Regions from separate parts of the Homo sapiens genome. Here region 2 is linked to region 1. Evidence: fine-mapped expression QTL. Tissue or cell type: whole blood. Region 1 holds a variant in brackets; the other region holds the start of a gene. All regions are shown on one strand. Distances are from middle to middle.

The links. PIP is the estimated chance that this variant, and not a neighbour inherited with it, causes the effect.
Region 2: MAP3K14-AS1 starts here. The variant in region 1 is fine-mapped to the expression of MAP3K14-AS1 in whole blood (TOPMed, PIP above 0.99).

What each region holds. Positions count from the first base shown.
Region 1 is chr17:45,211,786-45,217,708 of GRCh38, forward strand. The region is part of intron 2 of FMNL1-DT (FMNL1 divergent transcript); the gene reads right to left. Among named protein-coding and RNA genes, the nearest start is that of FMNL1-DT, 7.0 kb to the right of the region's middle. The variant C/G (reference allele first, on the strand shown) is at 3,094.
Region 2 is chr17:45,244,890-45,250,350 of GRCh38, forward strand. MAP3K14-AS1 (MAP3K14 antisense RNA 1) reads left to right here and starts at 3,036. Exons shown (of 4, transcript NR_110326.1): 1 at 3,036-3,114. It overlaps FMNL1 (formin like 1), which reads left to right. Exons shown (of 27, transcript NM_005892.4): 20 at 1-10; 21 at 90-219; 22 at 364-527; 23 at 743-844; 24 at 989-1,084; 25 at 1,321-1,441; 26 at 1,616-1,715; 27 at 1,978-2,429. The coding sequence ends at 1,707. It also overlaps the pseudogene EFCAB15P. RefSeq lists silencers at 589-759, 2,694-3,423 and enhancers at 2,514-2,583, 3,834-3,883.

The sequences.
Region 1 (5,923 bases):
GGCTCACGCCTGTAATCCCAACACTTTGGGAGGCCGAGGTGGGTGGATCAGTTGAGGTCAGGAGTTTGAGACCAGCCTGGCCAACATGGTGAAACCCCGTCTGTACTAAAAATATAAAAATTAGCCAGGGATGGTGATGCACACCTGTAGTCCCAGCTACTCAAGGCTCAAGAGGCTGAAGCAAGAGAATTGCTTGAAGCCAGGAGGTGGAGGCTGCAGTGAGCCAAGATCACAACACTGCACTCCAGCCTGGGCAACACAGCAAGAGAAAGAAAGAGAGAAACAGAGAAACAGAGAGAGAGAGAAAGAGAGGAAGAGAGAAAGAGAGAGAAAGAAAGAGAGAGAAAGAGAGAAGGAAGGAGAGGGAGAGAGGGAGGGAAGGAAGGAAGCAAAGAAGCAAAGAAGGAAAGAAGGAAAGGAAGGAAGGAAGGAGACCCATATACATTTTTTTTAAATTTTTTATCTAGCATTTCTAGCTGTTTTGTACACAAGAGTTTTTCTGAACATATATAGTCCACCTTATTGCTGGAAATAAAAGTCTCTGCTAAGTGCTTTACATAAAATTGTATTGAACATTCAAAACAATTCAATAAAATCATGTCACCATTTTTTTTTTTTTTCAGAGAAGAAAACAGAGGCTCAGGGAGTTTATGACTGCATTCAGATCCTAGTTCTGACATTTACCAGCAATATGACATTGAATAAGTCAGTCACTCCAGAGGACACCGAGCTCAGTGAGCACATTGGCGAGGCCTGCCCTGCCGGGATGCTGTTTGCCTTACAGTAACACGTAGAATGCCTCAGTGTCTGGCACAGCACTGGTACTCAGAAGACGTCAGTGATGACTGCTGTCTAAAGGGAAGGGATATGTACCTGGGACATGTAGCCTGTACTCTCTTCACTGGGAAGCATTGACAAGGACAGGTCAGTAACTGACTGAATTACCTGGAGGACTTTAAAAGACACAGATCCCTGACCGTACTCCCCCCAGATTCTGATTGTGATACATGGCCGGGTTTGGGAGCCTGTGTCACTGGGGTATGGCTCATGCGGTCTTTGCTGGTCCACTCCCTGGGGCTGTCCTCTAGTGAGTTACATAGAAAGGATAGCGTTGGGTTGGGTGCAGTGGCTCACACCTGTAATCCCAGCACTTTGGGAGGCCGAGGTGGGCGGATCACAAGGTCAGGAGTTCGAGACCAGCCTGGCCAATATGGTGAAACCCCGTCTCTACTAAAAAAATACAAAAATTAGCCGGGCATGGTGGCATGCACCTGTAATCCCAGCTACTCAGGAGGCTGAGGCAGAAGAATTGCTTTAACCCAGGAGGCGGAGGTTGCAGTGAGCTGAGATCACACCACTGCACTCCAGTCTGGGCGACAGAACAAGGCTTTGTCTCAAAAAAAAAAAAAAAAAAAAGAAAGGATAACGTAGTGACTATCACGAGTTGCCAAGAAGAGGGAGAGAGCAGCCCTCGTGGTTAAATAGCAAGCAATTTGCTTTAATTTTAATTTACTTTTTTTTTTTTTGAGAGGGAGTCTCGCTTTGCCACCCAGGCTGGAGTGCAGTAGTACAATTTCGGCTCGCTGCAACCTCTGCCTCCCGGGTTCAAGTGATTCTTCTGCCTCAGCCTCTCTAGTAGCTGGGACTACAGGCACACACTGCCACACCCAGATAATTTTTGTATTTTTAGTAGAGATGGGGTTTTACCATGTTAGCCAGTCTGGTCTCGAACTCATGGCCTCAAGTGATCTGCCTGCCTCAGTCTCCCAAAGTGCTGGGATTACAGGTGTGAGCCTTGTGCCCAGCCACCTTTTCATTTTTTTGAGACATAGTCTCACTGTGTCGCACAGGCAGGAGAGCAGTGGCGCGATCTTGGCTCTCTGCAGCCTCAACTTCCCTGGCTCAAGTGACTTTCCCATCTCAGCCTCCCAAGTATCTGGGACTACAGGAGCGTGTCACCGTATATGGCTAATTTTTTTTTTTTTGAGACGGAGTCTTGCTCTGTTGCCCAGGCTGGAGTGTAGTGTAGTGGCGTGATCTTGACTCACTGTAGCCTCTGCCTCCCGGGCTCAAGCGATTCTCCTGTCTCAGCCTCCCAAGTAGTTGGGATTATAGGCACCTGCTGCCATTCCCAGCTAATTTTTGTATTTTTAGTAGAGATGAGGTTTCACCATGTTGGCCAGGCTGGTCTCGGACTCCTGACCTCAAGTGATCTGCCTGCCTCCGCCTCCCAAAGTGCTGGGATTACAGGTGTGAGCCACCGCACCTGGCTTATGGCTAATTTGTAAACTTTTTGTAGAAAGGAGGTCTCACTATATTGCCCAGGCTGGTCTCCAACTCCTGGGGTAAAGTGATCCTCCTACCTCAACCTCCCAAAGTACTGGGATTACGGGCATGAGCCACTGCACCTGACCTTAATTTAACTTTTTGAATAGGTAATATATGTACATGTTTCAACAACCAAAATGAAATATAAAGAAATTCACTGGAAAGCTCTGTTCCCACCCTGTCCTTGCCTACCCCCGCAACAGGATTCCCCAGCTCCCTATAGGTCACCCACTGTTATTGCTTTCCCTATGCAAATTCAAGCAAATATAAACATTTATTTTTATTTCCACCTCCCTTTCATTCATTGGCTACGATACTACCACTGTGCAAAGCTCTTTTCTTTTTTTTTTTGAGACAGGGTCTCACTCTGTCACTCCTGCTGTCTCCCTCTGTCACCCCTGCTGGAGTGCAGTGGTGCAATCTTGGCTCACTGCAGCCTTGACTTCCCCAGCTCAAGCAACCCTCCCACTTTAGCCTCCTGAGTAGCTGGGACTACAGGTGCGCACTACCACGTCCAACTAATTTTTGTATTTTGTGTAGAGATGGGGTTTCACCATGTTGTCCAGGCCGGTCTCACATTTCTGCAAGTGATCTGTCCCCCTTGGCCTCCCAAAGTGCTGGTATTACAGGCATGAGCCACCACATCCAGCCTCCTCTACCTGCCTTTCTTTTTCTTTTTTTTTTATTTTTTGAGACGGAATCTCGCTCTGTCTCCCAGGCTGAAGTACAGTGGCGCGATCTTGGCTCACTGCAAGCTCAGCCTCC[C/G]GGGTTTTACGCCATTCTCCTGCCTCAGCCTCCCGAGTAGCTGGGACTACAGGAGTGCACCACCTACGCCCGGCTAATTTTTTGTATTTTTAGTAGAGACAGGGTTTCACCGCGTTAGCCAGGATGGTCTCAATCTCCTGACCTCGTGATCCGCCCACCTCGGCCTCCCAAAGTGCTGGGATTACAGGTGTGAGCCACTGCGCCCGGCCTACCTGCCTTTCTTTCAAAAAAGATGACATACTATGTATACTGTTCTGAACCACATTTTTTTTTTTGAGACAGAGTTTCGCTCTTGTTACCCAGGCTGAAGTGCAATGGCACTATCTTGGCTCACCGCAACCTCCGCCTCCTGGGTTCAAGTGGTTCTTCTGCCTCAGTCTTCTGAGTAGCTGGGATTATAGGCATGTGCCACCACACCCAGCTAATTTTGTGTTTTTAGTAGAGATGAGGTTTCTCTATGTTGGTCAGGCTGGTCTTGAGCTCCCAACCTCAGGTGATCCACGGTCCTCGGCCTCCCAAAGTGCTGGGATTACATGTGTGAGCCATCGTGCCTGGCCTTTTTTTTTTTTTTTAGATGGGGTCTTGCTCTGTCACACAGGCTGGAGTGTGGTGGCACAATCACAGCTTACTGCAGCCTCAACTTCCCTGGCTCAAGCAATCCTCCCACCTCAGCTTCCTGAGTAGATGGGACTACATTCATATACCACCATGCTGTCTTTTTTTTTTTTTTCACTTTCTGTAGAGACGGAAGTCTCATTATGTTGACCAGGCTGGTCTTGAACCCCTGGACTCAAGTGATCCTCCTGCCTCGGCCTCTCACCTTGGCCTCCCAAAGTGCTGGGATTATTGGCGTGAGCCACTGCACACAGCCTGTACCACATTTTTGTTTCAAAATATATCCTGAAGATCTTTCCATTTTTCTTGGCATCCTTATTATTTTTTTTTTTTACAGCTGCATAGTTTTCCATTGTGGGGCTATATCATAATTTACTGAACCCTTCACTGTCCAATATGTAGCCACACATGGCTACTTAAATGGAAATTAATTAAAATTAAGTAACATTTATTTATTTCCTTAGTTGAACTAGCTACAGCTTGAATACTCGGTAGCTACGAGTGGCCAGTGGCTGCCATATTGGACAGGGCAGATAGAGAACATTTTCATCATTGCAGAAAGTTCTATAGGACAGTGGTTTAACTGATCCCCTAAAGCTGGACACCTAGTTTGTTTCCAGTTCTCAGGCAGCTTGGGGATGATGGGGCCCATCCCTGGAATGCAGCAGAGCTGGGTGAAAGCTGCACTGGGAGTTCTGGGCCTTCAACCTCAGACCTTGCAACCTGGGAGGCTCCTGCAAGAGGAAGGCTTTTGGATTTGGGGCAGAGGCTTGACCAGGGTCTGGAAGAGAAAGTGGCCCTAAAGAGCAGTCCTCCTTGGAGGTTGCAGTGAGCTGAGATCGCGCCACTGCACTCCAGCCTGGGCAACAGAGTGAGACTCCATCTCAAAAAAAAAAAAAAAAAGCAGGCCTCCTGTTCAAACCTAACCTTTTACCCTCTCCCTCCCAGCCTGCCAAAATGCAGCTCTGTTTCTTTCACTCAATATTTAGCAGACACTTCTTGAGTAACTCCCAAGGATGGTGTCAAGTCCTTCACTGGGGATGTAGGTATGAGAAAGACACAGTCCCTTCCTTGGAGAAACCCGCGGCCCAAAGAAAAAGACAGATCATCAACTGCTCTGTGAGCAGGACTTTTAAAGAGTCATCACCTAAGATCAAAAGGCCTGATATTAACCTGTTTGTGAGGATTTGGGGAAACAGGTGATCTCATCCGTTGTTGGGGATTGTAAATTGGTACAAAATTTTTGGAGGGCAATTCTGTGAAAACCTATAAAACATTTAAGAGCACATAATCTTTGACCCAGAATTGCCATACTTATAAATTTATTTCACACACACACATATGTCTGCAAATATATGTACCAAGATATTTCCTGTAATTAGCATTGTTTGTAGTAATAAAAGGCGGACATACATAAATATCCACTAGGAGGGGAATGGTAAATAAATTGTGACACACCATACGATGGAAAACTATGTTGACTATCTACAGGCAGGTATATTATGACATGAAAATAGCAGGTGCTGAACAGTGTAGAGCGTGTGCTATCATTTGTGTCACACACACACGCACATATACACAGCATATGCTCCAAATAGCTCTGCAAAGATACATTAGAACTGTTAAGAGGCCAGGCGCGGTGGCTCACACCTGTAATCCCAGCACTTTGGGAGGCCAAGGCGGGTGGATCACTTGAGGTCAGGAGTTCAAGACCAGCCTGGCCAACATGGTGAAACCCCGTCTCTACTAAAAATACAAAAATTAGCTGAACGTGGTGGCACACACCTGTAGTCCCAGCTACTCAGGAGGCTGAGGCAGGAGAATTGCTTGAATCTGGGAAGCGGAGGTCGCAGTGAGCTGAGATCACACCACTGCACTCCAGCCGCCTGGGCAACAGAGTGAGACTCTGTCTAAAAAAAAACAAAAACAAAAACAAAAAAACTGTTAAGAGTGGTTGCCTCTGGGGAGGGAATGGGAAACAGGGCAACAGGGAGGCTGATTGGCAAGAGATCTTTCCTTTCTTTCCCCTTCCTTCCTTCCTTCCTTCCTTCCTTCCTTCCTTCCTTCCTTCCTTCCTTCCTTCCTTCGAGATGGAGTCTTGCTCTGTTGCCCAGGCTAGAGTGCACTGGCGTGATCTTGGCTCGCGGCACCCTCCGCCTCCCAAGTTCAAGTGATTCTCCTGCCTCAGCCTCCCGAGTACCTGGGATTACAGGCA
Region 2 (5,461 bases), 33 kb after region 1:
CCTGGATGCGGTGAGGAGGGGCCCCTGGCTTGGGGACTGGGGCTGGGGACTGGCTGGTGGCCTGTGGCTTACAATGGGTCCTTGTGCAGCTGTTGGAGATGAAGTCGACTGATCGCAAGCAGACGCTGCTGCACTACCTGGTGAAGGTCATTGCTGAGAAGTACCCGCAACTCACAGGCTTCCACAGCGACCTGCACTTCCTGGACAAGGCGGGCTCAGGTAGGAGACACACAGATCCTTGGGTGTGGGGAGGGGCCGTGGGCTGGGGTAGGTTGGGAGAAAGCTAGGGGGCCACAGTATATAATTGGTGGGAGGGCTGCCTCTCCGATTCACTGACCTGATACTGCCCCATCCCTGGCCCAGTGTCCCTGGACAGTGTCCTGGCGGACGTGCGCTCCCTGCAGCGAGGCCTAGAGTTGACACAGAGAGAGTTTGTGCGGCAGGATGACTGCATGGTGCTCAAGGAGTTCCTGAGGGCCAACTCGCCCACCATGGACAAGCTGCTGGCAGACAGCAAGACGGCTCAGGTGCGCCAGGGCTGGCCTCACCTGGAGGTGGGGCATGTAGGAGCACTAGATAGCACAGCCTGGAGGGGTGTGGCCGTAGCTGGGACCCCTTGGGGGGATGCAGCAGGAATGAGGGGCCACCCTGCCTGGGAGGAGCTCAGATCAGGTGGCCAGTGTCCTGAGGGGTACAGGCTGTGAGAGGTCTAAGCTGGGGGGCTGACAGGCTGTGCCCACAGGAGGCCTTTGAGTCTGTGGTGGAGTACTTCGGAGAGAACCCCAAGACCACATCCCCAGGCCTGTTCTTCTCCCTCTTTAGCCGCTTCATTAAGGCCTACAAGGTATTCGGGTCTGGGGCAGGCTGGGAGCCCTGTAGGGCACTGAAGCCTTTCTACTGGGCAGCGGAGGGGTGGGGCTGCTTCTGTTTAGGGGGTGGGTAGGGCAGTAGGGAGGGCCACCCTCATGGAGACTGCCTTGGCCCACAGAAAGCTGAGCAGGAGGTGGAACAGTGGAAAAAAGAAGCCGCTGCCCAGGAGGCAGGCGCTGATACCCCGGGCAAAGGGGAGCCCCCAGCACCCAAGGTAGGCAACTGCTCCTGGGCTTGGTACTGGGCTGCAGGGATGCATGGCATCTCATCACCCTCTGGTGCCACCCCCACACCCTCACTGTTACAGACTGACCCTGCCCCAGGAGCCTGGGATGGGAAAGGGTTCTTTCTGCTCAAGCCAGCTGTCCTTGCTGTGGGGGACCAGGCAGATATTCCAGGGTTTTGGTGATGGGGAGGCATCCTGGAGCTGGAGCTATAAATTCCCCCTAGTCACCGCCAAAGGCCCGGCGGCCACAGATGGACCTCATCTCTGAGCTGAAACGGAGGCAGCAGAAGGAGCCACTCATTTATGAGAGCGACCGTGATGGGGCCATTGAAGACATCATCACAGGTAAGGGCTTGGCCAGGCCTTGGTCTTATCCTCAGTCTGTCCTTCTATGCTTTCTTCTGACCCAATGCGCTATCCTCTGGGGGACTGGCTGCCACACTGCTTCTTGCTACCTTTTCTGTTTTTCTTTCCTTTTTCCTTTCTCTACTCCCCTTCACCTGCCCCACCCCCACTCAGTGATCAAGACGGTGCCCTTCACGGCCCGCACCGGCAAGCGGACATCCCGGCTCCTCTGTGAGGCCAGCCTGGGAGAAGAGATGCCCCTCTAGCCCCTCAGGTACCCAGATGACCTGGCCTCTGATACCACGCTGCCCACAGCCCCTGGGACCCTTGGGAGAACTGAGGCATGCTGCCTTCTCCTGGGCCAGTGGATGGCTGGGATGTGATTTGTGGGGTGGAGGGGTCTGGCAAACATAAACGGTACCCCTGCCATGTGCACACAATCTGAGTCCTTAGGAGGCTAAGCTTTGTGCCCTGGAGCCATGCTCCCAGCTCTGGGCGGACTCCTGAATGGTAAATGTGTCTCCTTCGGCTGCCAGATCTGCGGAACCAGCCCTACATCCGCGCAGACACAGGCCGCCGCAGTGCCCGTCGGCGTCCCCCGGGCCCCCCACTGCAGGTCACCTCCGACCTCTCGCTGTAGCCGCTATTTCTGCAGGTGGATTCTGCAGGGGTGTGGGGCCGTGGACAGGCTGAGGCTCAAGGAAGGTGGTCCTCAGCTCGGCTGGCCGGGCAGCCCCTCCTCCGCTGTGGCCCGCCTCAAACGGGCTGGTGCATCCTCCTCTTGGCCACAGAGGGCAGCATCGCCCGCCCCTTCCCCCAAATGCTGCTTGCAGCACCCACCCTAAAGCCCCCTCCAAATAGCCATACTTAGCCTCAGCAGGAGCCTGGCCTGTAACTTATAAAGTGCACCTCGCCCCCGCAAGCCCCAGCCCCGAGGACCGTCCATGGACCTTATTTTTATATGAGATTAATAAAGATGTTTGCAAAAGATCCGCGTCGGCTCCATGCCTGCCGCAGCCACCCGCAGCCTGTTTCCGCTCAGCAAACGCTTTACTTGCACAAGCTCTTCATAGCAGGCCTCTGCAAACCAGCGGGCGCCGGGGAGAAGGGCTGCTTCTTCACTAGAGTTGGCGGCGAGGGAGCCCGCTTCGAGGGGGCGGAGGCTTTCGTGGCTGGCCCAGTATCCCTGCGGGAGGCCGGAGGGGGCGAGCGGGCAGCTGGGGTTAGACACGCCGGGCCAGCCCCGCAGCAGTTCTCCTTCCGGCTGCCCCGCCCCATTTGCGCCAGTCCTGCCTCCCACCCGGGCATCTGGCCCCTTTTCCTTTCGCCCTACCCAGTACTTAGTGACGCCATAAGTGACCTCGCCTTACATCTCCGCGCGTGCCGCCTCCGTCACCGCCTGCCGGGTCCCCATTTCTTCCGGGCCTGCCCCCGCTCCTCGCCTGCCCCTCCCCTCCACCAGCCAGTGTCGCCCCATCTGTCTGTCCTCCGGGCACTTGTCCCGCCCCTCACTGCGTGTCCCTCCCCCGCCCGCCGGCTCTCACCTAGGCCGAGACACGCCCCGGGCTGGGCGGGATCTTGGGGCGGCCGGGCTAGTAGGGCTGGATCAGGCGGAAGCCGGGGCCCGGGGCTGGGCTTCGTGTCCTGCGTTCCGGGAGCGCCAACCCCTCCAGGTTAGGAATCTGAGAGTACGGGCTGCGCGCACCTGGGGCGGGTGCCTGGGAGGAGGTGGAGGAGGAGACGGTCCTCAGAACGGGTCCTGGGGGTCGGAGGCGAGGGCGGGGGTTGTAAGTGGCCGGGAGAGGTCCCTCCCGCGGGTCCCGGCGCCCCCCGCCCCGTCGGGGACGCACCTACTTCGTGCAGTTTGTGCAGCGAGCGCGCCAGCTCCTAGTTGGAGAGGTCGCTGATGCGCGCCGCGTGGCAGAAGGCGAGCCCCGCGTGGGAGCGCCCCCCAACCCCCGCAGCCTGGGCTGAGCCGCAGAGCCCGCTGCTTCTTGAAGTAGTAGCTTGGAGAAGAGAGGCGGGGCGGCCGCCTCAGACACTCCCAGCCCTCTCTGTCTCACAGGTGCGGAAGCCAAAGCAGGGCCGGAAGCCGCTGCTTTGTCTTTGTCCTGGGGCGACTTGGGGCCCAGGAAACAGACTCAGAATTCAGGGCTCCCGTCTCTAGGGCAGGAATATCAGGGGTCCCTGCGGGGGGCAGGGTTTGCTCCTCCCATTGTGGGCCCAGGAGCTGGTATGGTTGTGCCCACCTCATCACCCCCCGTGCCAACTTGGAGGGCACAAAGCCCCGGCCCAGCAGCTTGAACAGCATTTCCAAGAACAGGGTCTGCAGTCCCTGGGGGTACAGAGCTGGCTGTTCCTCACCCGGCTTGGGGGCAAAAAAGGTGAAGGAGGGTGAGGAGGGGGCACCCCCTAAGCCAGGCCCACCCCTCCTCCACCAGCCTTGCCCCTCACCCATGCACTGAGCCAAGCGGTGGTTGTCATCGAAGACACCCAGGAAGTCAATGAAGCTTACGATTCCATCACCTGGGGAGAGAGGAGAGGGGGTGCTGTGGGTGCCTGCCCCCTGCAGAAGGCCTGCCTTGCACATGCCTGCTGGCAGTTCCAGGTGTTAGAGAATCTAGTCCTGCCTCTAGCCAAGGGCAGACCCCAGTTTCAATGGGGGAGAAACGGCCCATGCCTTGGGGGTTCCCAAATCAGGATTAGGATGAACACAGCAGCAACGTTTACAGGCCATGAGATAGGTGTGTTGGTCAGGGCAGGCTTCCTGGAAGAGGGAACTTTAAAATAGGACCAGGCCAGGATTTTGTGGGAAGGGGAGGCATTCTTTAAAAGAATGCCTGGAGGTGGGAGGGGACAAGAAGACAGGGTTGGGGCACCCACCATCCAAGTCTGCCTGCCGCAGAGCCTCGAACGTCTCCTGTGGACTCAGCTGGATACCCACATTGCCCAGGGCAACTTTCATGCTGTGCATGTCCACGGTGCCTGTTGGGCTGGAGCTGAAGAGTTTGAAGATATCCTGGAAGGCTGAGGGTAGAGGGGACAGGTGGCAAGACGAACCACCCACACAAGAACCCTGAGAGCTGCCCACTCTAACTCAGGTGGAACTGACGACTTGGCTCATTCCAACTCCCTCCTGGGTGTTTTAAATTTTTATTTATTTATTTATTTATTTTTGAGACAGAGTCTCACTCTTTGCCCAGGCTGGAGTGCAGTGGCGAGATCTCGGCTCACTGCAGCCTCAACCTCCCAAGGCTCAAACGATCCTCTCGCCTCAGCCTTCTGAGTAGCTGGGATCACAGGTACGTGCCACCACGCCTGGCTTATTGTTTAATTTGTTGTAGAGATGGGGTTTCGCCATGTTACTCAGGCTGGTCTCAAAGTCCTGGGCTCAAGTAATCCTCCCGCCTTGGCCTCCCAAACTGTTGGGATTACAGACATCAACCTCCACACCTGGCCTATAACTTTTAATATAAAGAGTAGCAGTGGCTGTTGTGTGTTGGTACATGTTATGTGCCCATCCAGTCCTCATGTCCAAAACTCATGTTTGAAAAACATTCAAAACTCATGTCCAAGGTCACATCTGGCAGTCTGGCTCTGAAGCTACAGTGTCTTGGAGCCCTGCTGGTGCCTGGCATGTAGTAGGCACTGACCATTGTTGATGATGAATAAAGTGATTCTGCTTTGAGGGGCCCTTGCCAATATCAGGACATGTTGTTTGGGGGAGCACTGGGGCTGTAGTTTCTTTTGCCTTTACCCCTATGGTCCTAGACCCCATGAGGCAGGGGAACTCAGATTTTTCCCCCCATTTTTTCTCCTTCTTTACCTTCTCCCTTCTTTTCCATCCTGTTCATCATCCATCTATCCATCCATCTAAATACCTGCATTCACCTATCTACCAATCCACTGAGTTTTCTTTTCCTTTCCTACACACACACACACACACACACACACACACACACACACACACACAAGACTGTGAGCCCTAGGGTTGTAGAGATGAGCAAATCAGACAAGCAT